3 separate regions of the Homo sapiens genome follow, and regions 2 and 3 are each linked to region 1. Evidence: fine-mapped expression QTL. A gene starts in region 1. Each other region holds a variant in brackets. All regions are shown on one strand. Distances are from middle to middle. Region 1 holds the start of ABCA2 (ATP binding cassette subfamily A member 2). Region 2 holds the start of LCNL1 (lipocalin like 1). Region 3 holds the start of LOC124902313.

Region 1 (9,164 bases):
CAGCCTGCCCACTGCAGACAGCATCCCGGTAGCCCTGCAGGGCTCCCTTCTGACTCTCAGGCACAGTGAGGATCCGGCCCAGCTCCCCCGAGCCCGGCGTGCAGGTGAGCTGCTCCAGGAGGGCAGGAGCCAGCAGCAGCTCCTGGGATGGGCACAGGGGTCCGTGGAGCCACGGCAAGGACTTTGTCCCCAACCACTAGGGCCTCAGGCCTCACCCTGCCCCACCCACTGGCTGGCTCTGGGGCTGCCTGGGTCCCACGACATGCCTCTACCCCTCATGCCTGCCATAGACCCCTGGGACCCTCCCCCTCTCCCAGGAGGAGCTCCAAGTCACCAAAGGGGCCCTTTCCTCACCCACGGAGCAGAAGCACCCCCAGAGGCAGGCAGCACTCCAGGCCCATCCCACACATGGATGCCCTCACCTCCATCCGGAACAGGGGATTGCCCCCTAGGCGGCTCCAGGGCTCCTGACCCTTGTGGAGGCCAGACTGTGAATCCAGGGCAGATGAGGGACCAAAGAGCAGGTGGTAGACCTAGGAGGTGTGGGGGAATGGCTCAGATGGGGTGTGGGGGGCGTGGCTCAGATGGTGGGGGCGTGGCTCCGATGGACGTGTGGGGGCGTGGCTTAGATGGTGGGGGCGTGGCTCAGAGAGTGGGGGCGTGGCTCAGATGGTGGGGGCGTGGCTCCGATGTAGGTGTGGGGGCGTGGCTCAGATGGTGGGGGCATGGCTCAGAGAGTGGGGGCGTGGCTCAGATGGTGGGGGCAAGGTTCAGACGGTCTGGGCGTGACTCAGGCTGAGCATCCTGAGGATGGCTCAGCAACCAGGGGGCGTGGCTGGGGCAGAAGGGAGTGGCCAGGGCTGGGAGCTGTCCCTGCCTTACCTCGGGCGGGTCCACACGGGCGGCCAAGAGTGCTTGGGCCGTGCTATTGGGCAGCGACAAGTTTTGCGTCAGGAAACGCCAGAGCTCCTGCGGGTTTCTGGCCACCGAGTCCAGAGAGAAGGAAGACACTGGACAGGCAGGAAGGCGAGGCTGAGAGGCCGCTGCACCTTGGCAAGGTGCCCCCACATGCGCTCGGAGCCGAGCCCAACACCACAGCTCTGCCACTGCAGCCTGTGCGTGGCTGGGAACTCAGTGCAGGTGGAGGGGCCCAGAGTGGATGTGGGCTTCAGCCCAGTGACAGCAGAGCTTTGCCCGCAGCCCTGCCCCCCAACTTCCCTGCACAGGGCACACCTGTGGATCTGTCCAGGTGGCTCCCCGAGGTGCCCGGGCCCGCACTGAGGGCCTCCAGATGCTGGCGTAGGGCCTCGAGCTCTGAGCCCAGGCTGGGCCGCGCTGGGTCAAACAGGTTGCCTTCCTCCACCACGCGGTCCAGGCGCTCAAGCAGCTGCGTGACCCTGCACCATGGCGGATGTCACTCACTGGATGGGCTGGGGAGGGGTGGGTGCTCCGAGGGGCGGGTGGGCACTCACGTGGAGTTGGCGTACTGCAGGAAGCCGAACTCGTCTCGCTGGCCGTCCGGGCACAGCGATTGCATGACAGGCAGGATGCCGGCAGACGTCAGGGGCGCCGCTGTGTAGAAGGCTGGCAGACCCACGGGAGAGGGCAGGGTCGGGGGTGAAAGGGGAGAGAGAGAGAGAGGAATCCAGAAGGGGAGGGAGACAGAGGCCGAGAGGAGAAATTTAGAGAAAGTCAGGAAGGAGAAGCAGCGTTAGGGAGAAGGCGGCACAGAGCCCTGGCCCCAGCTGGGCTACAGGCCAAGCGTTCTGGGGCGAATGACTCCAGCAGGTCAGAGGTCAAAGAGCCACTCACCACCCCTTCTGCCATAACTCCCAGAGCATTCCTTTCCTTTCAGCCAGTGCAGGCCCACATGCCCTGGCACTCTCCCCCCGAAAACGTTTCAGGTGTGGCACTGCCTACAGAGCCCAGGGGAGGACAAAGGACCCCCTCTGGGCAGTGACCTCTGACCTCTGGCCAGCTGGTTAGCAGAGTGAGTGCAAGAGCCTGAAGGAGTATGAAGGGAGAGTAGCCAGGCCGCTCCAGCCCCAGCCCAGGCCAGCCCAGCCTCAGCCCAGACTCAGCCCAGAAGCCGAGGCACCCCAGCCCTAGAAGGCAAGGCCAGGCAGAGAGATGCCGCCTCAGCTTGACCCAGGCACCAGCTGTGCCTTTAGGTGGCCGGGCCTTTCACTCCCTACCACCTCCCACTTCACTGCCTGCCACCCCCCATCTGGAGCCAGCTGTTCCTGAGGCCGGCAGGGGGCCCGGGAGGGCTGTTAATGCAAGCGGGGAGGGCGCTCAAGCCAGGACGGCCCATGGGCCCCCCGCAGCTGCTGCCCAGGCCAGCCAGGAGGAGGTGGCCGCTCACTTACAGACTGCATGCCAGCCGAGGACAAGAGACCATGCGGGGAGGGAGGGGGATCAAAACAGAACAGAGGAGACCAGTGAGTGCCCACATCACCAGGAAGAGGCGTTGGCATCATCATTCGCGGCCACAGGCCAGCCCCGACCTCCACAGCCCAGCCAGGAGGCACGGCCCAGGACCACACAGGGGAGCAGGCACCGCACCTCAGGGACTCCGGGAGCAGGACACCCGTGTGCAGATGTGCACACACAGCGCAGGCGTGCGAGGTGCCGCGCTCCCCCGGCTGTGCCTGGGGCCTCCTGCCGCACTCACCTTCCTTCACGGAGATGGTGGGCTTCTTCTGTCGCAGCCCCAGCAGGATAAAGAACAGCACCAGGGGGATGAAGATCTCGAAGGCCAGGACCCACTGGAAAGGGTGGGCCCAGTGAGGGATAGGACAGACCTGTGCTCGCCTAGGCCCTCCCCAGCCTCCCATAGGGCTGGCCCAGCCCAGACAGGACCACGTGCTCCCTGGGGCCAGGGAAGGTGGGCACAGGCCCTTCGGAACCACTGAAGGTCTGAGCCCCTTCCAGGGCACTGAGGGTAAGGATTGTCTGGCTCAGCAAATCAGGTTTCCCGTCCCCAGCCCACACTGGGCCTACGTGCCCTCTGAGGAGCCTCAGGGCCTACAGGGACAAATCGGCCAGCTTGTGGTCTACTCTGACCCATGTATATCCCAGCTCATCTTCTCCCTCCCCACCTCCAGGGCTACCTGGGCAAAATCTTGGGGACCATCTGAGCCACTAGCCCCGCCTACACTTCCCACACTGCCCCGGGTTCACCTTCCTCCCACTTCCTCCCCACCAATACCGGGGCCTGGGGAGATGAGGAGGCCTGGTTGAGAGGCTTGGCCTGCGCCCAGGGCCCTGAGCCTCGGAGAAGACCTGGTAAGGGGTCTAACAGCCCCAGTCCCTGAAGCAAAGGCACCTTTTTTTTTTTTTTTTTTTGAGACGGAGTCTCACTCTGTCACCCAGGCTGGAGCACAGTGGTGCGATCTCAGCTCACTGCAAGCTCCGTCCCCCAAGTTCACACCATTCTCTTGCCTCAGCCTCTCGAGTAGCTGGGACTACAGGCGCCCGCCACCATGCCCAGCTAATTTTTTGTATTTTTAGTAGAGACGGGGTTTCACCGTGTTAGCCAGGATGGTGTCGATCTCCTGACCTCGTGATCCGCCCACCTGGGCGTGAGCCACCACACCTGGCCCAAAGGCACCTCTTTCTGCCCTGTCCCCTCTCCTGACCCGGGGCAGCCAGTCTTGGGCCTTGGAGCTCAGTTTCCCCAGGTCGGCTCCTGCTAACCCAGGCTGGGCACCAAGGTGAGCCCTAGTGGGACCTGCGTGGAGTGAGAAAGAGGTGCTTTGCTCACTTCACCTGAAAACCAAGGACTTTACCGGTTCTTGTGTCCCAGCCCCCAGCTCAGGGAGGAGGAGGAGCTTGAGCCAGCTACCCTCCAGAGAGCCCTCGGCAGACCAGCCCTCTCTGAGACCCACAGGACAGAGGGGCCCTGCCCTCCCTAGCCCGAGGGCGAGCACCCAGCTCGGAGGCATCCTTTGTCCTCATCCCCATCCCAAAACCCTTCAGAGCCCCCAGTGTGCTGTGTGGCCCGGGCCGAGTCCCCGGTCCCTGGGGTGGGGGCGGCTGCTGTGTTTACTGTGCTTGGACAATAGGGCTTTGTGGCCAGGAACATCATGCTGTGGGTGTCCCATGCCCGCCCCAGCCCGTGCCAGCCTCCACCCGCTCCCTGAGCCAGGACGGAGCCCAGGGTTCGCCAAGGCACTGTGGGCACCAACAGGCACCAGGGCGAGGGTGGCTGCAGGAGTGAGGCAATGTCAGAGGCAGGGGTCACAGCACGGGGCGCCAGCCCCGCCCACACCCGGCCTGCTATGGGCACTGTAACTGCAGCAACAGGCCCGGCTGCCTCCCCCATTGCTATAGCAACGGCCTCGCACGAGCTACTGGGAGGAGGAGGAGAGTCCTGGCTGGCAGGCGGCGGGCGCCACAGCAGCATCTGGTTACAGGCGGCAGCACAGGTCTAGCACGCCCTGGGTGCCCCACACAGGTGCCTCCAGGTGGCCCAACCTCCGTCCCTCGAGACCAGCCCAGTGCCTTCACATCGCCTGGAGGCCTAGATGCCTTCTCTGGGCATGACCCCTCCCTGTAGCTCCCGCCTACTGTGTCGGGGGGAGAACAGGTGAGACCCGAGGGTGGCGCTGCCATCTGCCATCCCAGTGACTTCATGACAGTGACCCTGTCCCTGCACCAAGAGCAGCCTGTAGCCCAAGGGTAGACCCAAGTCCAGCTAACTAAGAGGAGATAGGCCACACTCACAGACAGGGAAACTGAGGCAAAGAGCTTGGAGGAGCCTGCTAGCAGCACAGAGGTCCTTGGCACCCACCCTCCAGACCCTGAGCTCTGCCCAGGGTGGAGCTCTGCCCAGGGTGCACCCCTGCCCCAGCAGGGCGCATGGCACACAGGGCAAACCTCTGTCATCCAAGCTTGGCCCCAAGAGTCCAGCTCTGATGTCCAAGATCCTTCCCAGGAAAGTGGGGACCCAGCAGGAGTGTGCCCAGTGTCCAGCCAGCCCCAGCCCCACATCACAAGCCTGGCAAGGACTCAGCCTCCCTGGGGGAAACAGTTCCCCACCTGCTCCAGCCATGGGCTAAGGACCTCCACTGTGGCCCAGTGGGCCTCTGGGAGCCCTGTAGGGTGGGGACCCAAAAAGGTCCTGGGGGGCAGCCCAAACCAGCAGCTGGGAGTCACTCTTGCGGTCAGGACAGTGCACACCTCCCACCTGCTTGCCAGCTGCCCTCATAGGCCACACTCCCTTCCCTGAGCATTGTCCCCACTGGAACAGGGGCCACCATTCCAGCCTCTGCTCCCAAGCCCAGTGGGGACCTTCCTGACAACCACCCCCGGGGACTAATACTAATGCATGCCACATGCCACATCCCTGTTCCCTTGGCCCTGCTCTGCTGTCCCCAGTGACTCAATGCCAGGGGCTGCAGGCCTGATCCATGGGACCCCACTCAGCCAGCTCCAGGTGCCTGGCCAGGGCATGTACCTAACCCAGGCTCCCCGCCAAGGCCAGGTGCCCAGGGGAATTCTGCCAGCCATGGTGATGATGGCCACCCCAGCTGACTGCAGCCTGGGTTTCCTGCAGTGCATGTTGAAAGATAAACAGGCACGGACTGGTGCAGCCCAAGGGGTCCCGCCCGGGCCCTGGCTGGGCAAGAGGATGTCTGCCTTAGGCCCCCACCTGCTCTGAGCCCTGGCCTGGACAATCCCAAGGGCCTTCAGAAACCTAAGCTGGTCCAGGCCTGTGGCCTGGGAGGTGTCCCTTCCCTTCCCAGGCTGGAGCCAAGCTGGCCAGCTGGGGGTATGGCAGGACACCCATATCCCCAAGCCCCTCGCTCCACGAAGGACTTCTGTCCCTGACAGCCATGTGTCCTGCACCCTCAGGTCCACTGGCTGCCCAGGCAGTGCTGGGAAAGCCGGGGTTCACAGCTCCAAACAGTAGACCCAGCCCCCAGAGCAGGTGGGGGGACCAGGAGGCAACAGAGTGGATCAGGCTCGGGGAGAACTGACCCCAAAGGACAAATGGGTGCAGAGATTCAGGCTGGCCAAGGCTGGCACAAGGACATTCCCAGTGGCGAGAGCATGAGCAAGGGTCACGGATGTGCCAGGAGGGGAGGCGGAGAGATGCCTGGGACCAACCTCTATGGCAGGCCGCGGCCCAAGGGCAGGGGAGGGGTGGACGGAGGGAAGGGACAGGGTCTCCTCCGGGACCCCAGGGAGGCTGGGCCCAAGGACCATGGAGCCTCGCAGCTGAATGGAGCCCCCCAGGCCTGCCTTCTGTCCTGGGAACCAGGGCCTCCCTCGAGCCAGAGTCCTGAGCGCCGCTTGCCCCCCGCCCACAGCGGCCCCAGCGAGCGCGCTGCAGAGGGCGCGGGTGCCGTGACTCAGCCGAGCACCGCGATGTCAGCGGACGCGGGACCGGACTGGACACGACCGAGCCACCTCCCCGGAGGCCGCAGCGCCGGCAGGCGAGGGCAGGGCCCGGCGGGGAGGGGGCTCGGGCCCGCGCCGCCCCCAGCGCCCGCCGGGGTCTGCGCGCGCCCGGCCGTCCGCACGTGCGCGCGGGGAGCGCGCCTCTGGCCGCGGTGCGCGCGGCCTCGGGCTGAGGGCGGGCGCGTGGGGTGGGCTCACCGGGCTCCGGCGTTTGAGCGTCACGTTCTTCCAGAGCAGCAGCTGCAGCTGGTGCAGGAAGCCCATGGCGGGGCCACGCTCCGCCGCCTCAGCGCCGCGGCCCGCTCCTCTGCGCGCCCCGCCGGGCCCCGCAGCCCGCCGCGCCGCTGGGCATCGCCCGCGCGGGGGCGGGGCGCTCGGGCGTCCGGGACCCGATCCGCGCTGGCTCCGCCCCGGCGGCCGCGGCGACAGCGACTCTGCCCGCGCCCCGCCCGCCCCCGCTTAAAGGCGCCGCGCTCCGTCCGCGCCCGCCAGGAGGCGCCCGCCGCCCGCGCCGCGCCCGGGACCGACCCGGGCCCGAGACCCTGCGCGCGCCGCCGCCGGGAAGCCTCCGGGCCGCCCCTCGCCGGGCGTCACGCGACGCGCCCACATCGAATCCGAGACCCCGGCTTAGCCTTCGTAGGCCGGGGGACCCTCGGGCGCTGCGCTCTTCTCCCAGAGGCATCCGGCTGCGCCCACCGCGCTGGCGACTCTGCAGAGGCGCCCCAAGCCTTCACTGTCCCCGGGGCGCGCCGAGCGGACGCTGGCGAGGGGCCAGCTCACCCCCGTAAGGGTCTCCTGTGTGCTTTGTAAACCAGCACTTGGAGTCCAGGTGGTGCCCACCTGGAAGGGAGGCAGGGCGGCCAGGTGGGTCCGTCCCGCGATTCCGAGCAGCCAGCGGAAGGGGGGAAACTCGAGGCCCCAGGAACGCTCGCCGTGAGCGGAGCAGGCAGGGGACCGAGGCGGCCCCTGCTGCACGCGGCTCGTTTTTCTCCCCATATTCGGGCGAGTCTGGTCTCTGCACAGGGAGTTCGGGATCAGGCGGTTCTGCGGCTGTGGCTTGGCACCTGCTGGGGCGCCCCGGGAGGTGGGGCAGTTCCTCCGCGTGGCCTGTAGAGAGCGACAGAGGACAGGCTGACCCCATGGGTGGCTCTGACGGCGCTTCCCAGACTCAGTTTCCCCCCTGTGAATGGGGTGGAGTAGCGCTGTGTGGTGTCCAGTGTCAGGGCGCACATAGAAGGCGCATCCTCAAGTGAATGAAGACCTCCGAGGCCACAGCTCCCCACTCCTCCCAGCTCCTTTGCAGCAGGAAGGTGACCCTGGGCTAGTGAGTGAGGGATCAGCTTCCCACCCCAGCCCGCAGCCTCAAGGCACTTGCTTTTCTCTGCTCAGTCCACAGGGCTGGGTCAGGGCAGGAAGCTACCAGCAGGTCTTTCCCACAAGCCACAGCCATGGGTGAGGGGGGCTTCCTGCCCTCAACCTGCCCACCCCTACCTGGGGTAGGGACAAGCCCTGTGCCCCAGCCCCGGGGGCTTAGCCTGTTGGGGCCCTGGTCAGCACCACCCGTGGGTTGGCCTCTCTCCTCCTCGCCCCACTCTCCACCGTCCACTACAGGGGCTCCCTGGCTGCAGCCGCATCCCCAGTGCCTCCCCAGCACTGGCCACCAGAGGGAGCTACAAGGCACAGGTCAGACCCTGTCACCCCAGACACCCTCCAGCCTGCGGGCCTGGGAGATGGGCGATTTCAGCCTGGCCAGGCCTCTGACGTCCGTTCCCTACTCTTCCCCAACCTTGGCCTGTTTTGGTTTTTGTTTTGAGACAGGGTCTCATTCTGTTGCCCAGGCTGGAGTGCTGTGGTGTGATCACGGCTCACTGAAGCTTCAACCTCCTGGGCTCAAGCCATCCTCTCACCTCAGTATCCCAAGTAGCTGAGACCACAAGCGTGAGCCACCACGCCCTGCTAATTCTTGTATTTTTGGTAGAGATGAGATTTCACTACACTGCCCAGGCTGGTCTCGAACTCCTGGGCTCATCGCCTTGGCCTTTTGGGGGACACAGAAGGCTCTCTGATAAGGGGCCGTCTGGCGGAGGCTGTAGGAACTGGGGTAGCCAGTGGGCAGCCCGGCACAGGGAGGGCTCTCAGGCGGAGGGTGAGCAAAGGCCCAGAAGTCAGGCGACAGGACCCCCCGTGGGGAACAAGCAGCCCCATGGCCGTGGGGGCGACATGTCAGGGGAGGGCAGATGCAGGCTCTGTGGCCCTGCACGGAGGTGACCCATGAGACACTGGCCAGACCCACGAGGCACTGCTCAGATGTTTATTGTCCACCGCCCTCCCTCCCTGAGCCCAGAACAAGCTGGTTTGCTCCCCGTGGTCTCCTGGGCCCCGCCCCAGCCTACACACAGGGACCTCAGAACTATGGACGTGGCAGGGACCCGTGCCTGTGTCTCGGGGACCACAGGGCCTCTGCTACCGAGGAAGCTCGGGGTCCCAGGTTTGGCCCCCACAAACTTCAGGCTGGGGTGCCCCCCAGCCCCAAGGGCCCTGCCTTTCACCCTCTTCCAGCCAGGCCTTCACCCACCCAAGATTTGTTCAGGGTGGGGAGGGTCCTCGGCAGCCTTTCCCCTCCCGTCTGCCGCAGCAGGCACCCGTTACCTCCCTCCCACTCTCACCTCCTCTGCATGCTCCAGTGCCCACCTGCACCCCCCACCCCTGCTTCCTGACCTCTGTGCCCAGCCTCCCGTTAGCCCGCTGCTTGCCGG
Region 2 (9,608 bases), 40 kb before region 1:
CGGAGAGCAGGCTCAGGGCGGATTCACCCACCACCCCCAGGAGGGAGGCCTAGGCTGGAGCTGGAGTCTGTGGACCCTGGGGCTGGGAAGGGTGGAGTCTGTAGACCCTGGGGCAGCGGGGATCCAAGCCCCAGGGATGGATCTTGCTCTCTCAGCGGGGCTCAGTGGGGCTGGGGGCAGAGAAAAGTCCCCGTAGCCCGCACCTGCTCCATCGACTGGAGTGGAGGTGGGCTGGGGTAGACTGCAGTCCTCCATCCTAGCCTTTCGGTCACACCCCTCAGGACTCCCCAGGGCTGAAGCTGGGATCCCGGCCAGCCAGGTGACCCCCACGCTCTGGATGTCTCTGCTCTGTTCCTTCCCCGAGCCCCTGCCCCGGCTCCCCGCCAAAGCAACCCTGCCCACTCAGGCTTCATCCTGCACAATAAACTCCGGAAGCAAGTCAGTAGAGCTGGCTCCTGGCTGTCTGCGCTGTCATCACCCGTCCTGGGCCTGGCCCTGGCCACCCGGACCTCCCCCTCTAAAATCTCAGCCTGACGTCAACAAAGGAACAGGCCCTCTAGTGTTTGCTCCCAGTGGGGTCTTGAGTCAGGACAGCTAGGAGGGGGTGTCCCTCACTGTCTCCCACCCACCCCACACAGTCGTGTGCCCCTGCCCCACAGCCCCACACGTCGAGCCATACCCCCTCAGCTGCCACTGCCACCAGGCCGGTGCTGAGCTGGGGGTCAGTGACTCAGCTAATCCCTTAGGCAGGTGCCCTGCACCCCCAACGCCACCCTGTCACCCCCTCAGCAGTAAAGGCCTGAGGCTCGAGGCCCCAGAGGAGCTTTGGACCTGTTGGGTATCTTGAGGTGTGGGATTAACGCACTGAGATTGGGCAGAGATAAGGGTTTCAGGGGACAAAAAGAAACATTTGTTTGAAACATGCCAGAGTGTCTCCACCCCGCATCAGGACAGACTGACAGAGTGGGCTGGGGACAGGCTACCCCATATCCCTTCTGGCTCCCTGTGCGCCCCCTGCCCTCTGACCTGGGCCTCCAGATCACAGCCTTGTCCACTCACCAGAGCCCTGGCACCACGGCCACACCATGCCCGGCCAGTGCCCTGCCCAACCCTGCTCCCTTCCAGATTCCCACCCAGGCAGCCATTCTCAGGTACACAATGTGCAGGACTCACTGTGACCTGCCCACCAGGCCCCCCCGAGGCAGACCCTGCAGAGGCACCAAGCATTTTGAGGCTCGGAGGTGAGGGTGAGCTTCTGGGTGGCCTTCCCGGAGAAGGGGGCTTAGGGCTGTGCCTGAGCTCAAGGTAGGGGGGATTCCAACATCCCAGAGGGGCTGCAGAAGGCCGAAGAGGCAGGATGGGTGAGCTGCAGGCCCCCTAGCCCAGAGGCCCGTCAGAACTACCCTCAGCTGCCAGGCATCCGGCCCCACCCCGGAGGAAAGGCAACGGATGGCTGGGGTTGGGTGGAGGGAGCCAGGCCAGAGCGCTGCAGGGTGCAACTTGATCAGAAGCCTGTCACAGTGGGTGCAGTCCCAGGCCAGCCGCCCCAGGGCACCTCAGGGGCGTAAAGCCTACAGAGGAGCCACCTCAGCTCTGCCCTGCTCCCGTGTCCGGAGGAGATGCCATCTTGCTGCATGATGCTTCGGGCTCTGCTGATCAGTTCCCTCCTTGCCCTGCTCTGGGCATCCCCAGGCCAGGCCCAGGTCCCCATCCAGGCCAACTTTGATGCCAGCCAGGTGTGCCCAGCCCTGTTTCCTCCTCATCTCCAATGAGTCCTCCCGGCTTTGGTGCTGCACCCCGGGTCCCTGTCCACACCCTCTTTGATCCAGGCTCAGCAGGGCTAGGGGCAGGGGAAACCCCCACCTCACCCGCTCCGTCTGACTGGAGTAGGGGTTGGCTGGGGAAGACTGCAGCCTCCATCCTACCTTTTCAGTTGCATCCCCCAACAATCCCCAGGGCCCAAAATAGGGACAAGTTGGTTGCCTGTGCCTCACTGTCCCCCACCCACCCCACAAAGACCTGTGACCTTGCCACAGCCCCACCCATCCAGCCGTACCCCCTGGGTGCCAGCTGCAGACAGGCCGGTGCTGGGCTGGTGGGGGCCAGTTGCTCATGTACTGAGGCCCCCCTCCCTCAGTTCTGCATCGGGGTCGAGATGTGTACAGCAGCCCCTGCCGTGGCCAGGAAGCAGCTGTGTCGGGGCAGAATGTGGTGGGCTCAGGCCCAGGGCACAGGGGCGGCCTCCCAGCCTTCCCTGCACTTGCCCTGCAGTTCCAGGGCACCTGGTACATGGTCGGGGTGGTGTCAGATGACCAGGACTTCCTGGACTCCAAGGACACCATGAAGATGGCTGTGGTCTTAGTGACCCCCTTGGGGAATGGTGACCTGGCCCTCAAGTTTGGATACCCCACGTAAGTGACCACACGAGCCCATCAGACTCAGCCTCAGAGGATGGCCAGCATGAGGCCACATGAAGGTCCAGAGGGACCATGGTGTCCCCAGCACATTGAGGTCAGACCACGGGTCCTCGACGGCTCTGTGCGGCAGAGCCCCAGATGGCAGCCACACGGAGTCCAGAGGGACCCAGGCCCTGGAGGAAGCACTGCCTGAGGCCTGGTGTTGAGAAAAGTGTCTGCATGTCTGTGTCTGTGTGTGTATCACTGTATGTGGCTGTGTCTCTGTGTATGTGTGTCTATTTCTGCATGTGTGTGTGTCTGTGTGTGCGTGTGTATGCATGTGTGTCTTTGTAGATGTGTACCTCTGAGTGTGTATGTGTGTATCACTGTATGCGTCTGTGTGTCTGTGTGTCTGTGTATCTGTGTCTGGCTGTGTGTGTCTATCTCTGTGTGTGTCTTGTGTGCGTGTCTATGTGTGTGTCTGTCAGTGTGTCTGTGTCTGTGTCTATCTCCGTGTGTGTGCATGTGTGTAT[G/A]TGTGTGTCTTCTGTGTGTCTGTGTCTGGAAGGGGGACCTGGAGGCCCTGCATTCTAGGCTGTGTGCCTGTGAACAGGTACTTAATACCCACCCCACCCCCAGCAGGAGTGTCCCCACCTCTAAGGTCATCCTAAAGTCCCATGTCCTCTAAGGATTGTGAGGGTGAACAGGGGACCCTGGGCTCAGAGACAGCAAGGTAGGCTCTAGGCCTGGGCGCTGGGCAGGGGTGGCCACTCAGGGGATTGGGGCTCTTTCTCCCCAGGCCCCATGGCGGGTGCCAGAAAATGGACACGACCTTCACCGAGGGTGCTGTACCGGGGCAGTTCAGCAACCCAGGTGAGGTGGGGCAGCAGGCAGGGCTGTGGCGTGGGGGCCCTGGAGGCTGCATGGACTGCTGGATTGGCACCTGGGGCCGGGGCGTGAGGGGTGCCACGCTCGGGGGGGAGGTGCCCTGGGCCTGGGGTCAGCGGCTCTCGCTCCTCCAGCCATGGCCCTGAGTGACATCCGAGTGGCCTTCTCCGACTACCAGCACTTTGCCTTGCTGTACTTGGAGATGCGGAAAGGGGGCCTGCGGAACCAGTGGCTGCAGCTCTACGGTGGGCGGGCTGCGGGGCGGAGACCCAGACACCCCCGCTTCGGGTCTGGGATGTCACCCCTGTGCCTGCACCAGCCCTTTCTGCACGCGGAAGGTGGAACCGCTGGCTCCTGGTGTCTGTGGCCGCGGGTCCCGGCCCCTCCCTGCCCCTCTCTCCCTCTCTTCGCCCCTCCAGCCCCTTCCCTTTAGCTTACCCGCCCTCCCCACCTTCAGCTCGAGCGCCCGAGCTGTTTCCCGAAGGCGCCCAGAAGATGCAGCTACTGGCGCCCCAAGTGGGCCTGAGCCCCAGCCAGGGCGTCCTGCTGCCGAAGTCGGGTGAGCGGTGCCGGCAGCCCTGCTGGGAGGGCCAGGCCCCGGGTCACACCCCTGCTGGAAGGGCCAGGCCCTGGTCACTCCACTGATCTCAGATTCGGGACAGAAGTGCCCGGGGCAGACCCAGCCTGTCTGGGTCGGGGGAGGGCGAGACGTTGCCCAGGCCGGTGTTCCCAGGAGGAGATCGCCTTGGGGCAGGTCGGGGGCCTCCGTCCCAGGGAAGGGGGCGCGGGGTGGCGCCTCAGGCTCGATCTCTCTGCAGACCAGTGTGCGGGCGCGCTCTCCCGGGTGAGTAGACCATGGCCATGCGGAGCCGCGGACCATGGGCCCTCCCAGCTCGGTGGGCTGCACCGCGGGGCCCTCTACCTTCGGGGCAGCTAGGGACGACAGCGGGGGTGATGGGGCACCCGGGCGGATCCGAGCCGCAGCAGCCTGGGGAACCGCGGGGCTGCGCGTCGGGAGGGGGCGGAGGCAGGGGACGCCGCCCACCTGCTCCTTGTTTTGCAGTGAGGGGTCCAGCCCCTGAGTGCCCGCAGGGGTCAGCTGCTCCGTGCGCCCAGCCCTGCCCAAAGAGCCCCCTCCCTCCACACCCTGGCCCCAAGCGCAATAAACACCCTGAATGCCTGTGGCGCTGTGCGTTTCTTGGGGGCAGGGAGGGGTGGCGGGGGGGCGGCCAGGTACATGGGCGCCCTGGGGGAGGGGCCGGGTCACCCCCTGTTGCCCCTCTGGGTAGGCGTTAGCCCAGGAGGGACCGAGCCTCGGCTCCGTGGCAGGGAGGTTCCTCAGGACGGGCCCCAGCCCCAGCTCTGGGACTTTTCTACCTCCGCACGGACCCAGACCCCCAGACTGGGGGCGCCGGGAGGGCGGGACACGGACACCACGCGGCGCGCGCCCCAGGCTTCAGCGGACACCGCCGCGCGACGTGGCCTTCCGGGTCCTCCCAAGCGGCTGCCCCAGTCAGTGTCGGCGGCTTCCATCCCCAGGCGCCCCTCCGGGTCCCCCAGCTCCCCAGCCCCTGACTCCTGGCTCCAGGACCCGCCCCAGAGGCCTGGCTGTTCCGGAGACCAACGAAGCGCTCCCAACTCTGACCCAGGGCCTGTCCACGGAGAGTGGAGGGCGAGGAGGACAGGAGGAGCCGCATAAAACTCTGCCCTGCCTGGAGTCTATGTAGGACAGTGTTGTCTTTTACAGACAAGTCTCGAAGAATTTGAAGGAAAATAGCCTACTAGCTGTAATGTACCTAGTTCAGCAAAATAATAATAAAAATACTGGTTGCAAATCTGTGAATATTTGGATAGTGTTTAATCTGGGTGATGGGTCTACGGGGTGCAGTATGCTCTGATTTCTCCTTCTCAGTTGGTCAGAGTTTTGTTTGTTTGTTTTTTTGAGATGGAGTCTCGCTCTGTCGCCCAAGCTGGAGTGCAGTGGTGCGATCTCGGCTCACTGCAAGCTCCACCTGCCAGGTTCAAGTGATTCTTCTGCCTCAGCCTCCCAAGTAGCTGGGATTACAGGTGATCGCCACCACGCCCTGCTAATTTTTGTATTTTTAGTAGAGACAGGTTTTGCCATGTTGGCCAGGCTGGTCTCAAACTCCTGACCTCAAGCGATCCACCCACCTTGGCCTCCCAAAGTGCTGGGATTACGGGCGTGAGCCACTGGGCCCAGCCCAGAAAATTTGTTATTAAAAAACACCACTCGGGCCGGGCCCAGCACTTTGGGAAGCTGAGGCGGGCGGATCATGAGGTCAGGATATCGAGACCATCCTGGCTGACACGGTGAAACCCCGTCTCTACTAAAAATACAAAAAATCAGCCGGGTGTGGTGGCGGGCGCCTGTAGTCCCAGCTACTCGGGAGGCTGAGGCAGGAGAATGGCGTGAACCTGGGAGACGGAGCTTGCAGTGAGCCAAGATTGTGCCACTGCACTCCAGCCTGGGCCACAGAGCGAGACTCTGCCTCAGAAAAAAAACAAAACAAAACAAAAAAACACCACTCGGCGGAGCACAGTGGCTCTGCATCCCCCCTGCATTCCCAGGAAGATTCCGAGCCGGGAAATGCAGGTTGCCCTCCACAGCCTCAGGGATGCCCTTTCCTTCCTTCCAGGGTGGGGCAGCCTCTGGGGGTGGCTGTGGGTCCAGCTGTGGTCAGCCCCCAATCCCTTGCAGACGCATCGAGTCCCTCACCTCCCACGCTCAGCCCTTTCTCCACCTAGAAGCCCAGGGGATGGATTCACAAGATGTGTCAGATCAGGCCCCCCTGCTCAGCACCCCACAGTGGGTCCCATTGCACTGAGAGTAAAGGCCTAAGTCTTTTTTTTTGGAACGAAGTTTCGCTCTTGTTGCTCAGGCTGGAGTGCAGTGGCGCGATCTTGGCTCACTGCAACCTCTGCCTCCCGGGTTCAAGCGATTCTCCTGCCTCAGCCTCCTGAGTAGCTGGGATTATAGGTGCCCGCCACCACGCCCAGCTAATTTTTGTATATTTAGTAGAGACGGGGTTTCACCATGTTGACCAGGTTGGTCTTGAACTTCTGACCTCAGGTGATCCACCCACCTCGGCCTCCCAAAGTGCTGGGATTACAGCCGTGAACCGCCATGCCCGGCCTCAGGCCTAAGTCTTGATGGTGGCCAACAAGGTCTTCTCTTTTAGGCTTTCCTTTGACCCACCATCCACTCCCCTCCCTCCGTCCTGCTGCCAGCCCCTCACGTGTCTCAGGGCCTTTGCCCAGGTCACCCCTGCCTGGACTGCCCTTCTCCCAGTGCCACTCAGTGCACTCACTCCCGTCTCTGAAGTCTTGCTCAAATACCTCCCTTGGTTGTTGACCTCTGCTACCCCAAAACTTGACTGGCCCCCACTCCCCTAGAGCTCGTTCTCCGGACCTTTTGCTCCTCTTTTTGGCCCAGCTTCCAGGTGCTCTATGCCTTGGGAAAGGTCAGCCCTTTCCCTCCCCTGTTCTGCCTCCATCACCGACTTCAAGTGTGTGCGTGGGGACTTTGTAATCCCTCTCCTTCTGCTTGCAAAGCTCCACTAACCTTATATCTCATACACTGTATTAATGTATCCTACATTAAAGAAAATTGCTCCCATGGCTGGGTGCAGTGGCTCATGCCTGTAATCTCAGAGCTTTGAGAGGCCGAGGCAGGCGGATCACCTGAGGTAGGAGGTCGGGAGTTCGAGACCAGCCTGACCAACATGGAGAAACCCTGTCTCTACTAAAAAATACAAAAATTAGCCAGGTGTGGTGGTGGGCATCTGTAGTCCCAGCTACTCGGGAGGCTGAGGCAGGAGAATCGCTTGAACCTGGAAGGCAGAGGTTGCGGTGAGCCGAGATCGCACCACTGCACTCCAGCCTGGGCGACAGAGCGAAACTCCGTCTCAAAAAAAAAAAAAAAAAAAAAGTATAAAAAAGTATCTCAGAGAAGGACGTGGTGGAAGCCAGTGGAAAAGCTGCTGCCAGTAGATGAAGCTGGCCCGATGTGAGCCACGAAACAGAACATGACACCAGGGTGTGAGCCAAAGTGTAAAATAAACACCTGAGGTCCACACGGACCCAGCCTGAGGCTAGTTAAATGAAGGTTTTGCAGTTTTCTCGTCATGTTTTGGAACTAATCTTTGTTTCTGGTCTTGTGTCAGTTCCTACAGCTGCCACAAATTATCACAAACTTGTAGCTTGAAGCCAGAGTTCAAAATCAGTTTAATAGGGTCGAGGTATCAGCCGGGCTGTGCTCCCTCCGAGGGCTCTAGGGGAGAAACCTTCCTTGCCTCTTCTAGCTTCTTTGTCTTCTTTTTTTGTTGTTGTTGAGACAGAGTCTTGCTCTGATGTCCAGGCCAGAGTACTATGGCGCGATCAGATCACTGAAGCCTTGAACTCCTGGGCTCAAGCAGTCCTCCTGCCTCAGCCTCCTAAGTAGCTGGGACTACAGGCATGCATCGCTATGCCTGGCTAATGTTTTCTTTTTAGAGATGGGTCTTGCTGTCTTGCTCAGGCTGGCCTTGAACTCCTGGCCTCAAGCAGTCCTCCCACTCTGAACTCCCAAAGCACTGGGATTGCAGGCATGAGCCACTGGGCCTGGCCTCTTCTGGTGGGATACCCTACCTTGTTTCCACCTGAGTGACCCTCTCCTGGCAGAGAGAGAGCCGGACACACTCCATTTTAGTTTCTTCACCTGCGGCCCCCTTTCACCTTCCTCCCTGAAGGCATAGCTAGTGTAAACTGACTCAAAGCACGTCCAGGAATGCACCTACTGATAAGACATTGAGGCAAGCTGCACCAGCAGCTCCTGGGGACACGCGTGGTGGATGGCACCCAAAACCCCTGCATTTATCTCTTTGTGATAGTTTAAGCCTCTGCACCTGGAACTGTTTATTTTTTGTAACTGCATTTGTAACCAATTAATTTTTTTAACTTTTTGCCAGTTCTGCTTCCGTAAAAATTGCTTCAGCTAAAATCCCCCCTCCCCTATTTAGACCACGGTATAAAAACAAAACTAGCCCCTTCCTCGGGGCCGAGAGAATTTTGAGCGTTAGCTGCCTCTCAGTCGCGGCTAATAACGGACTCTTTAATTTGTCTCAAAGTGTGGCGTTTCTGTATAACTCGCTTGGTCACAACACTGGCTTCTGATAGCAGCCTGTAATCCTTGGCTTGTGGGCTGCATCGCTCCAGTTCCTCCCTCCATGCCATGCTGCCTTCTTTTCTGTCTCAAAGCTTCCTCTGCCTCACTTTTAAAAGGCCCTTGAGATGGCACTGAGGGCCTCCCTGGGCAATCCAGGATAATCACCCCATCTCAAGGGAATATCTGCAAACACTCCTTTCTTTTCTTTCCTTTTTTTGGGGGGAAGGGGAGACAGGATCTCACTCTGTTGCCCAGGCTGGAATGCAGTGCCCAGCATCTTCCATAGACAATAGCATTCACAGGTCCCAGGGATTAGGGCCTGATATCTGGGGCCTGCTACAGCCAGCATCTCAGAGTTCACATGACAAAGAAGAGGCCCCCCAGTCCTCTCCAAATCTGCCCCACCCCAGTCATCTTGGGGATGAATCTCCCCTTTCCACTCTTCCCAAATGCCAGGGCCATCCTTGATTGTTCTTTGTCTCCTCCTCCCTCCACCTCCAGTCCGAGCCCATGGTCCACCCCTCTCCTCTGCAGCCCCCGTCCTCTCTCCTCACAGCACAGAATACGGACTTCACACACATAAGTCAGACGTGCCACTTCCCATCCACCCCTGCTTAAACCTCCAACAGCCACCACCCCCCATTCATTCATTCACAATGTTTATTCAGTGTCTGTATGTGCCAGCCATTGTGTAAGCGCTGAAGAGACGGATACACTGGCAGGTAAAACAGACAGAAATCCCTGCCCTCATGGACCTCCTGGGGTGATGGACAATAAGCAGGGTAAATAAGTGTATTGGTGGTCACTTACTGCAGAGTGACAGGTTACCCCAAATGCAGCTGCTTAACCAGCAGGCATGCATTATCTCCCAGTGTCAGCCAGGCAGGACTCTGGGCCTTTGACACAAAGTTTCAGGAGGCTGTGGTCAAGCTGCCGGCCGATGATGTGGTCTCATGGGAAGGCTCAGCTGGGGCGTCAGCTTCCCGGTTCCCTTGCTGGCCATGGTCATCCCCTTAGGGCTGCCTCATGTCACACCCAGCAATTCAAGAGCAATTTTGTCCTATTCTAGTTGCCAGAAGCAAGTCATTAATAAAGTCCAGCCCAAGGGGAGGGGAGTGCAGAAAAGTCTAAACCCAGGAGGGTATAACAGGGAGCTAGCTGCC
Region 3 (9,608 bases), 76 kb after region 1:
TTTCCGGCTCCATGTTACGCTCTTAGAAACGGAGTTGATTGTGGTTGAGGCGGAAGGAAGGGTTCCCCGCAGACGTCCTCTCTCTTCTACAAAGTGTGGGCAGAGCCAGGGCCAGTGAGGGCTGCTGTGCAGGAGTGGCCTGAGACAAGCGCTGTCCGCCGTGAGAGATGGGCTCCGAAGAAACGGGCCCAGAGGCCCTGAACTCAAGCGCGTGGTGAGAGGCGTGGACATGTGCATGTGAGGGGTCCTCACGGCCAGGAGGAGAATTTGAGGGCCACTGTGCTCTAGTTAGCGTTGGCATGAATGCAAGGACGCTTTACTTCCAGAGCAAAAGAGGATTTGACCTCAGCTTGTCAAAAGTGCCACGTTTGTACTCCCAGCATGTAAGCCATCTGTGGTTGTAAGAGGCCTTTTGCTGATCCTGGGACAGATTCACCACAGGGCCCCAAGAGAACGCTCGGGCCCAGCCACAGTTAGGAGGTTGCGCGGCAAACCCTCTACACAACCTCATAGCTGTTCCTGATGGCCATTGGACAGAACTCGATGGGGAGTTTGAGTGGCCATGCGTCTCGTGTGTAGGGACAGCCCCCGTCTGTGTGGCCATCCTGGCATCTTGGGGCCACCTCACTGTCACTAGTGCTCCTGTTTGGATGAAAGATTCTCTACTCCTCCACCATAGAGGCCCCCCGCCTCCGGCCTCTGCAGAGGGATTTCTCACGATTCTCCAAGCTCTGGTCTCTGACCTCAGGCCAGCCTTGACCCTGGAGCAGTGCTGTGGTCTTGGCTCTCAGGCACGGGAGCTCAGGACTGAACTGTGTGTTTCCTGCCACTCAGCAGCCTGCACCTCAGGATGATGGGGCCGCTTTGGGTGCAGGGCTGTGCCTTGGCCGTGGGTATGGAGCGTGGGGGTGGGAAACATGGAGCCACAAATGTTTGACGGCAGCTGACACCCTTCCTTCTCCCCCGAAGCTGGAGGGGAGCGGTGATCGAGCCTGAGCAGGGCACCGAGCTCCCTTCAAGAAGAGCAGAAGTGCCCACCAAGCCTCCCCTGCCACCGGCCAGGACACAGGGCACACCAGGTGAGGCCACACCTGCACCCCTTCCTCCCCGGGCGCTCAGGGGCTGGTGGCTGATGGGTGCAGGCTTCGTCTCAGCCATGGTGGGTGGCGCCCCCGCCCTGGTGTGCACCTTGCCCTTCAGCATCCCCCTGTTGTCTGAGTCCTCACAGGCTCTGCAACCTTGGTGACACCATGTGGCTCTTGGCCTGCTGTCCCTGAGCACATGGCTGCAGAAGAAGGTGTGTCTGAGAGGTTTGTGTCTGGGCCAGGCTGCCCCACGGGATCCCTGGAGACTGCTGCCCGTGCTGTGTCCCCTGTCTCGGCCTGGCCAGTCCCAGGCAGCTCTGGGGGCCACTTCATTCTCAGCACCGTTTGTTGGGGGCCTCCCAGGTGCGGGCCTTCGGCCAAGCTCAGTGCATGACCTGAGGCCTCTTTCAACCTCATGACACCCTCTGACACGATAAGCCACTCACCCTCCCGTTCTCCAGACTGAAAAGCAGGGCTGAGGACAGCCACCCCCAGAGTCGTTTGCTTGTCTGTGGGGGCTCATGGCAGGTCGCTGAGTCTGGAGCCCTGCTCTCATCATGCCCCCCAGGTGTCTCTGAGGTGGGGAGGGAGCCCAGAGCCAGGACTCCCAGCCCCGGGCCTGTGAGGGATGTGTAGCAATCTCTGCGGCATCAATGAGGGCAGAGGCAGAGGCAGAGGCATAGACATGCCATGAGCACAAGGAGGCCTCAGAACCTTTCCTGAGAGGACGTGTGGTTTGGTGCCGTTACACACGTGTCAATCCACACATTAGTCAATGTTGGCCGGGCGTGGTGGCTCACACTTGTAATCCCAGCACTTTGGGAGGCTGAGGTAGAAGGATCTCTTGAGTCCAGGAGTTCAAGACCAGCCTGGACAACACAGTGAGGCCCCATCTCTACAAAAAAAAAAGAAATTTATATATATGTGTATATTTGAGACAGAGTCTTGCTTTGTCACTTCACTGCAACGTCTGCCTTCTGGGTTCAAGCAAGTCTCCTGCCTCAGCCTCCCTAGTAGCTGGGATTATAGGCACCCGCCACCACACCTGGCTAATTTTTGTATTTTTAGTAGAGACGGGGTTTCGCGATGTTGGCGAGGCTGGTCTCAAACTTCTGACCTCAGGTGATCTGCCCACCTCGGCCTCCCAGAGTACTGGGATTACAGGCGGGAGCCACCGTGCCCAGCCAAAAAAATTTAAAAAAAGGGAACGAAGGGACTGTAGCGCGTGTGCACAGTGCGATTCCCGTGGAGCACCTGAAGCCCACGTGGCAGAAGGAGCGTGTTTGAGTCGAGGATGTTCATCGCGAGGTCTGCACCCGTCCGTGTTTCACATTCTGAGTTGGCACCACACTCACCCACGTCTCCACAGGCTGTGCTCACTGTGCTGTCCCAGCGCCCTTGGGGCAGCCACCCTTGTCCCTTTGGCCAGAGGCCACCGAGGCCCAAGGAGGGTGTGCCTGCCCAGGCGCCAGGTGGAGGTGCATGGGCCCCAGTCAGGTGGTCGGGTGACAGGTGCCATCCTGTGCAGTCTCCAGAGGTCTCAGGCCCTTGGCAGGCTGTGTTCTCCCTGGGGGCTGCTGCAGCCTCTGTGGCCCTGGCCTTTGCTGTGCCCACCACCGCCCTTCCCGTCGTCCCAAACCCACCGTCATCTTTGCCCCATGGGGGTCACAGCAGTGCTCTGCCTGAGGGTGTCCATCTGTGCCGACGCCAGGACCACGTCCGCCATGGCCTGTGCTCTCTCCCCCCTACTAGTGCATCTGAACTATCGCCAGAAGGGCGTGATTGACGTCTTCCTGCATGCATGGAAAGGATACCGCAAGTTTGCATGGGGCCATGACGAGCTGAAGCCTGTGTCCAGGTCCTTCAGTGAGTGGTTTGGCCTCGGTCTCACACTGATCGACGCGCTGGACACCATGTGGATCTTGGGTCTGAGGAAAGGTACCTGGTGCTTTCTGGGGAGGGGCTGAGCCCTCCGTGTGGGCCTCGTGTGCTGAGGCAGAGTGTGGGTTGCACACGGGGTGAAAGCTGCTGTTTGCATCTGACCATGGGTTTTCCCTTCTCCTGGGTGCGGGAGTGGACGTGTTGGCTGTGGTCAGTTCCTGTTCTTGTCCAGCCACCCAAGGCACACACAGGGCCGCTGTCCCCAGACCTCTGCAGGAGTTGAGTGTGGACTCTTTGGGGGACGTCCAAGGGACATTCCCAGGCTGTGCTTCTCTTGCAGCTGGGGGTGGTGGGATGAGTGACTGTGGGGCCCCGCTGGTCCCAGATCTCAGCAGCATCCTTCATAGACCAGCACATCCACTTTGAATTGGGAGTATGTGTCTTCGGTTATTTAAGCGATAATTTAAACATTTGCCTAATTTTTTGAATAGGTTGAAGACCACCAGTAAACGACGTGTGTAATTTTTTTGGGTCGTAGCCTTTGGTTGTGACCCATTGGTGGCCATAGCAACTGCACTGCTGACTCCGTTTTATTAACAAATGTTGACGACTTCAAGATTTACCCCCTTGAGATAGGAGGTGATATTGAAGCCCTGCAGGGGAACGATAACGCCCCAGACATGGGTTTGGTTTTTTGTTTTTGTTTTTTTGTTTTTGAGATGGAGTCTTTCACTGTCTCCTGGGCTGGAGTGCAATGGCGCAATCTCGGCTCATTGCAACCTTGGCCTCCTGGTTTCAAACGTGGGTTTTTTGGAGACAGAGTCTAGTGGTGTGGCCCAGGCTGGAGTGCAGTGGCACGATCTCAGTTCACTGCAGCCTTCGCCTCCCGGGTTCAAGCTATTCTCATGCCTCACCCTCCCCAGTAGTTGGGACCACAGGCATGCGCCACCA[T/C]ACTCAGCTAATTTTTGTGTTTTTAGTAGAGATGGGGTTTTCCCATGTTGTCCAGGCTGGTCTCTAACTCCTGGGCTCAAGCAATCCACTTGCCTCAGCCTCCCAAAGTGCTGGGATTACAGGCATGAGCCACCACGCCCAGCCAAATGTATTTTGAAGATGGATAGATAATAGGAAAACGTTGGAGCCATCCATTTGTCTCTGCATCCTTTACTGTTTTATGTCATAGAATTTGAGGAAGCCAGGAAGTGGGTGTCGAAGAAGTTACACTTTGAAAAGGACGTGGACGTCAACCTGTTTGAGAGCACGATCCGCATCCTGGGGGGGCTCCTGAGTGCCTACCACCTGTCTGGGGACAGCCTCTTCCTGAGGAAAGCTGTAAGTGTCTTGGGGTGTCCTGCAGGGAGATGGTGGACTCGCATTCAAGCAGTTACCCCTTTAGTGGACTTGTGGGGACGTGACTGTCTTCCTGTTTCCTCTTCAAATGCACTGGAGTCTGTTTCTGAGCTCATATTCGTGAGCTGATGAAGCCACTTTGATCACCACTGGCCTTGTAGAGACATTCACTCAGTGCAGAGTGATGCCCGTTTCCTTGCTGCTGTGTTGACCCCAGAGAGCCTTCAGTGTCTCCACTGAACTGCATGAAAGGGTGTAGACGAGGCCTCTGGGTGACCTGAACGTTGGTTCTCTACTCTGCTCATATACCAGGAGGATTTTGGAAATCGGCTAATGCCTGCCTTCAGAACACCATCCAAGATTCCTTACTCGGATGTGAACATCGGTACTGGAGTTGCCCACCCGCCACGGTGGACCTCCGACAGCACTGTGGCCGAGGTGACCAGCATTCAGCTGGAGTTCCGGGAGCTCTCCCGTCTCACAGGGGATAAGAAGTTTCAGGTAAGGGGGCAGGCTTTCTGGCTGGATGCGCCTCCCCTGGAGCTACCTTTTGCTCATCACAGCAGGTACTGTGTGTGTGTGTGTATGTGCATGTGTGTTTTCAGGTTTTTTACTGTGATAAAACACACAAAACGCACCACCTTAACCATTTCCAGGCGTGGTCGGTGGTGTTACATTCACGCTGTTGCAGGCGTGCAGGTCGGTGGTGTTACACACATTCACACTGTTGCAGGCGTGCAGGTCGGTGGTGTTACACACATTTGGGCTGTTGCAGGCGTACAGGTCAGTGGTGTTACACACATGCTGTTGCAGGAGTACAGGTCGGTGGTGTTACACACATTCATGCTGTTGCAGGCGTGCAGGTTGGTGCTGTTACACACATGCTGTTGCAGGAGTACAGGTCGGTGGTGTTACATGCTGTTGCAGGCGTGCAGGTCGGTGGTGTTACATTCACGCTGTTGCAGGCGTGCAGGTCGGTGCTGTTACACACATTCCTGCTGTTGCAGGAGTACAGGTCGGTGGTGTTACACGTGCTGTTGCAGGTGTGCAGGTCGGTGGTGGTACACACATTCATGCTGTTGCAGGAGTATAGGTCGGTGGTGTTACACACATTCACTGTTGCAGGCGTGCAGGTCGGTGGTGTTACACATTCACGCTGTTGCAGGCGTGCAGGTCGGTGGTGTTACATTCACGCTGTTGCAGACGTGCAGGTCAGTGCTGTTACACACGCTGTTGCAGGCGTGCAGGTTGGTGGTGTTACATTCACACTGTTGCAGGCGTGCAGGTCGGTGGTGTTACACACATTCATTCTGTTGCAGGCGTGCAGGTCAGTGTTACACACATTCACGCTGTTGCAGGCGTGCAGGTCGGTGGTGTTACACACATTCACGCTGTTGCAGATGTGCAGGTCGGTGCTGTTACATTCACGCTGTTGCAAGCGTGCAGGTCGGTGGTGTTACATTCACGCTGTTGCTGGCGTGCAGGTCGGTGGTGTTACACACATTCACACTGTTGCAGACATGCAGGTCGGTGCTGTTACACACATTCATGCTGTTGCAGGCGTGCAGGTCGGTGGTGTTACATTCACACTTGCAGGCGTGCAGGTCGGTGGTGTTACACACATTCATGCTGTTGCAGGCGTGCAGGTCGGTGGTGTTACACACATTCACACTGTTGCAGGCGTGCAGGTCGGTGGTGTTACATTCATGCTGTTGCAGGCGTGCAGGTCAGTGGTGTTACACACATTCACGCTGTTGCAGGCATGCAGGTCGGTGGTGTTACACACATTCACGCTTTTGCAGGCGTGCAGGTCGGTGGTCTTACATTCATACTGTTGCAGGCGTGCAGGTCGGTGGTGTTACATTCACACTGTTGCAGGCGTGCAGGTTGGTGTTACACACATTCACACTTGCAGGCGTGCAGGTCGGTGGTGTTACACACATGCTGTTGCAGGCGTGCAGGTCGGTGGTGTTACATTCACACTGTTGCAGGCGTGCAGGTCGGTGGTACACACATTCACACTGTTGCAGGCGTGCAGGTCGGTGGTGTTACACACATTCATGGTGTTGCAGGCGTGCAGGTCGGTGTTACACACATGCTGTTGCAGGCGTGCAGGTCGGTGGTACATTCATGCTGTTGCAGGCGTGCAGGTCGGTGGTGTTACACATTTTCACGCTGTTGCAGACGTGCAGGTCAGTGGTGTTACATTCATGCTGTTGCAGGCGTGCAGGTCGGTGGTGTTACATTCACGCTGGTGCAGGCATGCAGGTCGGTGGTGTTACACACAACGCTGTTGCAGGCGTGCAGGTCAGTGGTACACACATTCACGCTATTGCAGGCGTGCAGGCCGGTGGTGTTACATTCACGCTGTTGCAGGCGTGCAGGTTGGTGTTACACACATTCACACTTGCAGGCGTGCGGGTCGGTGGTGTTACACACATTCATGCTGTTGCAGGCGTGCAGGTCGGTGTTACACACATTCACACTTGCAGGCGTGCAGGTCGGTGGTGTTACACACATTCACACTGTTGCAGGCGTGCAGGTCCGTGGTGTTACACACATGCTGTTGCAGGCGTGCAGGTCGGTGGTGTTACATTCACACTGTTGCAGGTGTGCAGGTTGGTGTTACACACATTCACACTGTTGCAGGCTTGCAGGTCGGTGGTGTTACACACATTCACACTTGCAGGCGTGCAGGTCAGTGGTGTTACACACATTCATGCTGTTGCAGGCATGCAGGTCGGTAGTGTTACACATTCATGCTGTTGCAGGCGTGCAGGTCGGTGGTGTTGCACATTCATGCTGTTGCAGGCATGCAGGTCGGTGGTGTTACATTCACGCTGTTGCAGGAGTACAGGTCAGTGGTGTTACACACATTCATGCTGTTGTGCAGCTATCACTTCCATCTCCAGAGCCCTTTTCATCTTAAAACTGAAGCTCTCCCATCACACAGTGACCCTTCATGTCCCTCCCCAGTCCCTGAAAAACACTGTTCAGGTTTTTCTTCCTGGACCTCATTGTGTGGAGTTCCTCGTGTGAGTGCAGTCACACACGATTTGTCCTTTTTTTGTTTTCGTTTGTTGAGACAGAGTCTCATTCTGTCACTCAGGCTGGAGTGCAGTGGCGTGATCTCAGCTCACTGCAACCTCCACTCCCAGGTTCAAGTGATTCTCCTGCCTCAGCCTCCCAAGTAGCTGGGATTACAGGCGCCTGCCACCACGCCCAGCTAATTTTTGTGTTTTTATTAGAGACAGGGTTTCACCAAGTTGGCCAGACTGGTCTCAAACTCCTGACCTCGTGATCCACCCGCCTGGGCCTCCCACAGTGCTGGGATGACAGGCGTGAGCTACCACACCCGGCTGATTTATCCTTTTATTTGGGCTCCTTTCACTCAGCGTCTTTAAGCTTCATACGCGAAAGATGCTTCAGAGATTCCTTTTTCAGGCTGAATATCTGCTGCGTGGCTAGGCCACTTTTTGTTTAATCCTCTCTCCTCTGGTGGACACCAGGACTGTGCTGTTTTGGTTGCTGTAAGCGCGGGTGCACACGCCTGCCTGAGGCTGTGTTTTGGCCGTTGTGAGTGTGGGTGCACACACCTGCCTGAGGCTCTGCTTTGTTGTGAGTGCGGGTGCACACACCTGCCTGAGGCTGTGTTTTGGGTGTTGTGAGTGTGGGTGCACACACCTGCCTGAGGCTGTGTTTTGGGTGTTGTGAGTGTGGGTGCACACACCTGCCTGAGGCTGTGGCGCGATCTCGGCTCACTGCAACCTCCACCTCCCGGGTTCAAGCGATTCTCCTGCCTCAGCCTCCCGAGTAGCTGGGACCACACCCACCACCACACCCCGTTATTTTTTTGTATTTTTAGTAGAGATGGGGTTTTGCCATGTTGGCCAGGATGGTCTGGAACTGACCTCAGGTGATCCACCCACTGGCCTCCCAAAGTGCTGGGATTACAGGTGTGAGCCACTGTGCCCGGCCTCTTTTTACTTTGTTAATGGTGTATTTTGATAGATAACAGATTGTCATTTTCATGAAGCACAGCTGGTCAGTTTATTGTTGCTCATGTATTTGGCCTCATGTTCGAGTCCCTGTTTTTAATCATGAGCTGGACACAGCCCTCTTTAGAGCAACTGTGACCACTTGTGGTGAGAAGTGCAGCCCACACCATCCACGTGAGGCTCCCACACGCCATCCACGTGAGGCTCCCATGCAGACATTTAGAAGGCGTTTTCACTGCAGCTCAGAAAATGGCCCCAGGCCCCCATGGGCACCCCCATGTCACCAGGGCCTCTGGTTGCTGCCGGTACACAGGGATAGGCAGCCAGGCCTCGAAGGTGCTGGGCATGGGTTTGGGTGTCTGCGTTGGGTAGAGACCCGGAGCGCCCTTGCTGGGCGTGCCCTAACATCCCGGTACCCTGTGCCCCTCTGTGGGCCAGGACGCCTGGTGCTGCCAGCTGGGCGTAAGCCCTGAGGAGCTGAGGGTGGCTGTGACTTGGAGGATGAGTAGGAGCTCACCAGGAGGGCGTGGAGCCGAGGCGTTTAATATCATCAGGAGCAACACTGGGCTCAGAAGGCAGGCACACTTGCCGTCCCTCCAGAGCCATGGCTGACGGCCAGGCCTGGTGGGCTCTCGTGAGGACAGTGCCTGTGGTTGTCAGATGCTGTCCCTTCGAGTAAGGGATGAGAGCCATCCTGAAGATGGGTCAGCTCTGTGGTGACCACCCGTTGGGAGCAGTGACATTCAGGTGCGTTGCACTGGTGGCTGTGTGGCTGTGTGGTACGGCCACCAGGAGCCATGTGGGCAAGGACAGCTGTGGGCTGGGCACAGAGCTCTCTCTGCTGGGAGTCAGTCGGTGCTGGGGCGAGGGGAGGCAGAGCTCACAGAGCCCCTCTACAGCTCACCCTGCAGCTCGGCCCTGGCCAGTAAACCCACCATCCCCCTTTCTGCCGCAGGAGGCAGTGGAGAAGGTGACACAGCACATCCACGGCCTGTCTGGGAAGAAGGATGGGCTGGTGCCCATGTTCATCAATACCCACAGTGGCCTCTTCACCCACCTGGGCGTATTCACGCTGGGCGCCAGGGCCGACAGCTACTATGAGTACCTGCTGAAGCAGTGGATCCAGGGCGGGAAGCAGGAGACACAGTGAGGCCCGGCCCGCTGCCCCCAGCTCCCGCGGCTCCCCCGTTCCCGCAGCCCCCCACTCCTGCTGCCCCCAGCTCCCACGGCCCCCGCTCCTGCTGCCCCCCGCCACACTGTGTGTCAGGAAACCGCAGCCGTGCCAGGCCTGGCCCAG

Evidence for each region. PIP is the estimated chance that this variant, and not a neighbour inherited with it, causes the effect. A credible set is the group of variants that fine-mapping cannot tell apart.
Region 2: its variant is the best candidate, but not a certain one, in a credible set for the expression of ABCA2 in whole blood (TOPMed, PIP 0.76).
Region 3: its variant is the best candidate, but not a certain one, in a credible set for the expression of ABCA2 in whole blood (TOPMed, PIP 0.59).

Annotation. Positions count from the first base shown.
Region 1 is chr9:137,021,469-137,030,632 of GRCh38, forward strand. It overlaps ABCA2 (ATP binding cassette subfamily A member 2), which reads right to left and starts at 6,769. Exons shown (of 49, transcript NM_001606.5): 1 at 6,607-6,769; 2 at 2,675-2,768; 3 at 2,370-2,372; 4 at 1,473-1,584; 5 at 1,234-1,397; 6 at 883-1,010; 7 at 423-533; 8 at 1-142. The coding sequence starts at 6,672. FUT7 (fucosyltransferase 7) reads right to left here. Exons shown (of 2, transcript NM_004479.4): 2 at 8,706-9,164. It overlaps LINC02908 (long intergenic non-protein coding RNA 2908), which reads left to right and starts at 5,996. Exons shown (of 3, transcript NR_171031.1): 1 at 5,996-6,443. RefSeq lists enhancers at 1,125-1,704, 6,910-7,654 and a silencer at 6,847-7,026.
Region 2 is chr9:136,981,298-136,990,905 of GRCh38, forward strand. PTGDS (prostaglandin D2 synthase) reads left to right here. Exons shown (of 7, transcript NM_000954.6): 7 at 282-445. It overlaps LCNL1 (lipocalin like 1), which reads left to right and starts at 1,696. Exons shown (of 3, transcript NM_207510.4): 1 at 1,696-2,411; 2 at 3,193-3,266; 3 at 3,416-4,461. The coding sequence starts at 2,290. The coding sequence ends at 3,714. RefSeq lists enhancers at 3,034-3,591, 3,592-4,147 and a silencer at 8,940-9,234. The variant G/A (reference allele first, on the strand shown) is at 2,930.
Region 3 is chr9:137,096,859-137,106,466 of GRCh38, forward strand. MAN1B1 (mannosidase alpha class 1B member 1) reads left to right here. Exons shown (of 13, transcript NM_016219.5): 5 at 970-1,079; 6 at 2,838-3,023; 7 at 4,147-4,295; 8 at 4,626-4,814; 9 at 9,267-9,457. LOC124902313 reads left to right here and starts at 4,821. Exons shown (of 3, transcript XM_047424371.1): 1 at 4,821-5,054; 2 at 6,162-6,776; 3 at 6,814-8,118. The coding sequence starts at 6,374. The coding sequence ends at 7,352. The variant T/C (reference allele first, on the strand shown) is at 3,918.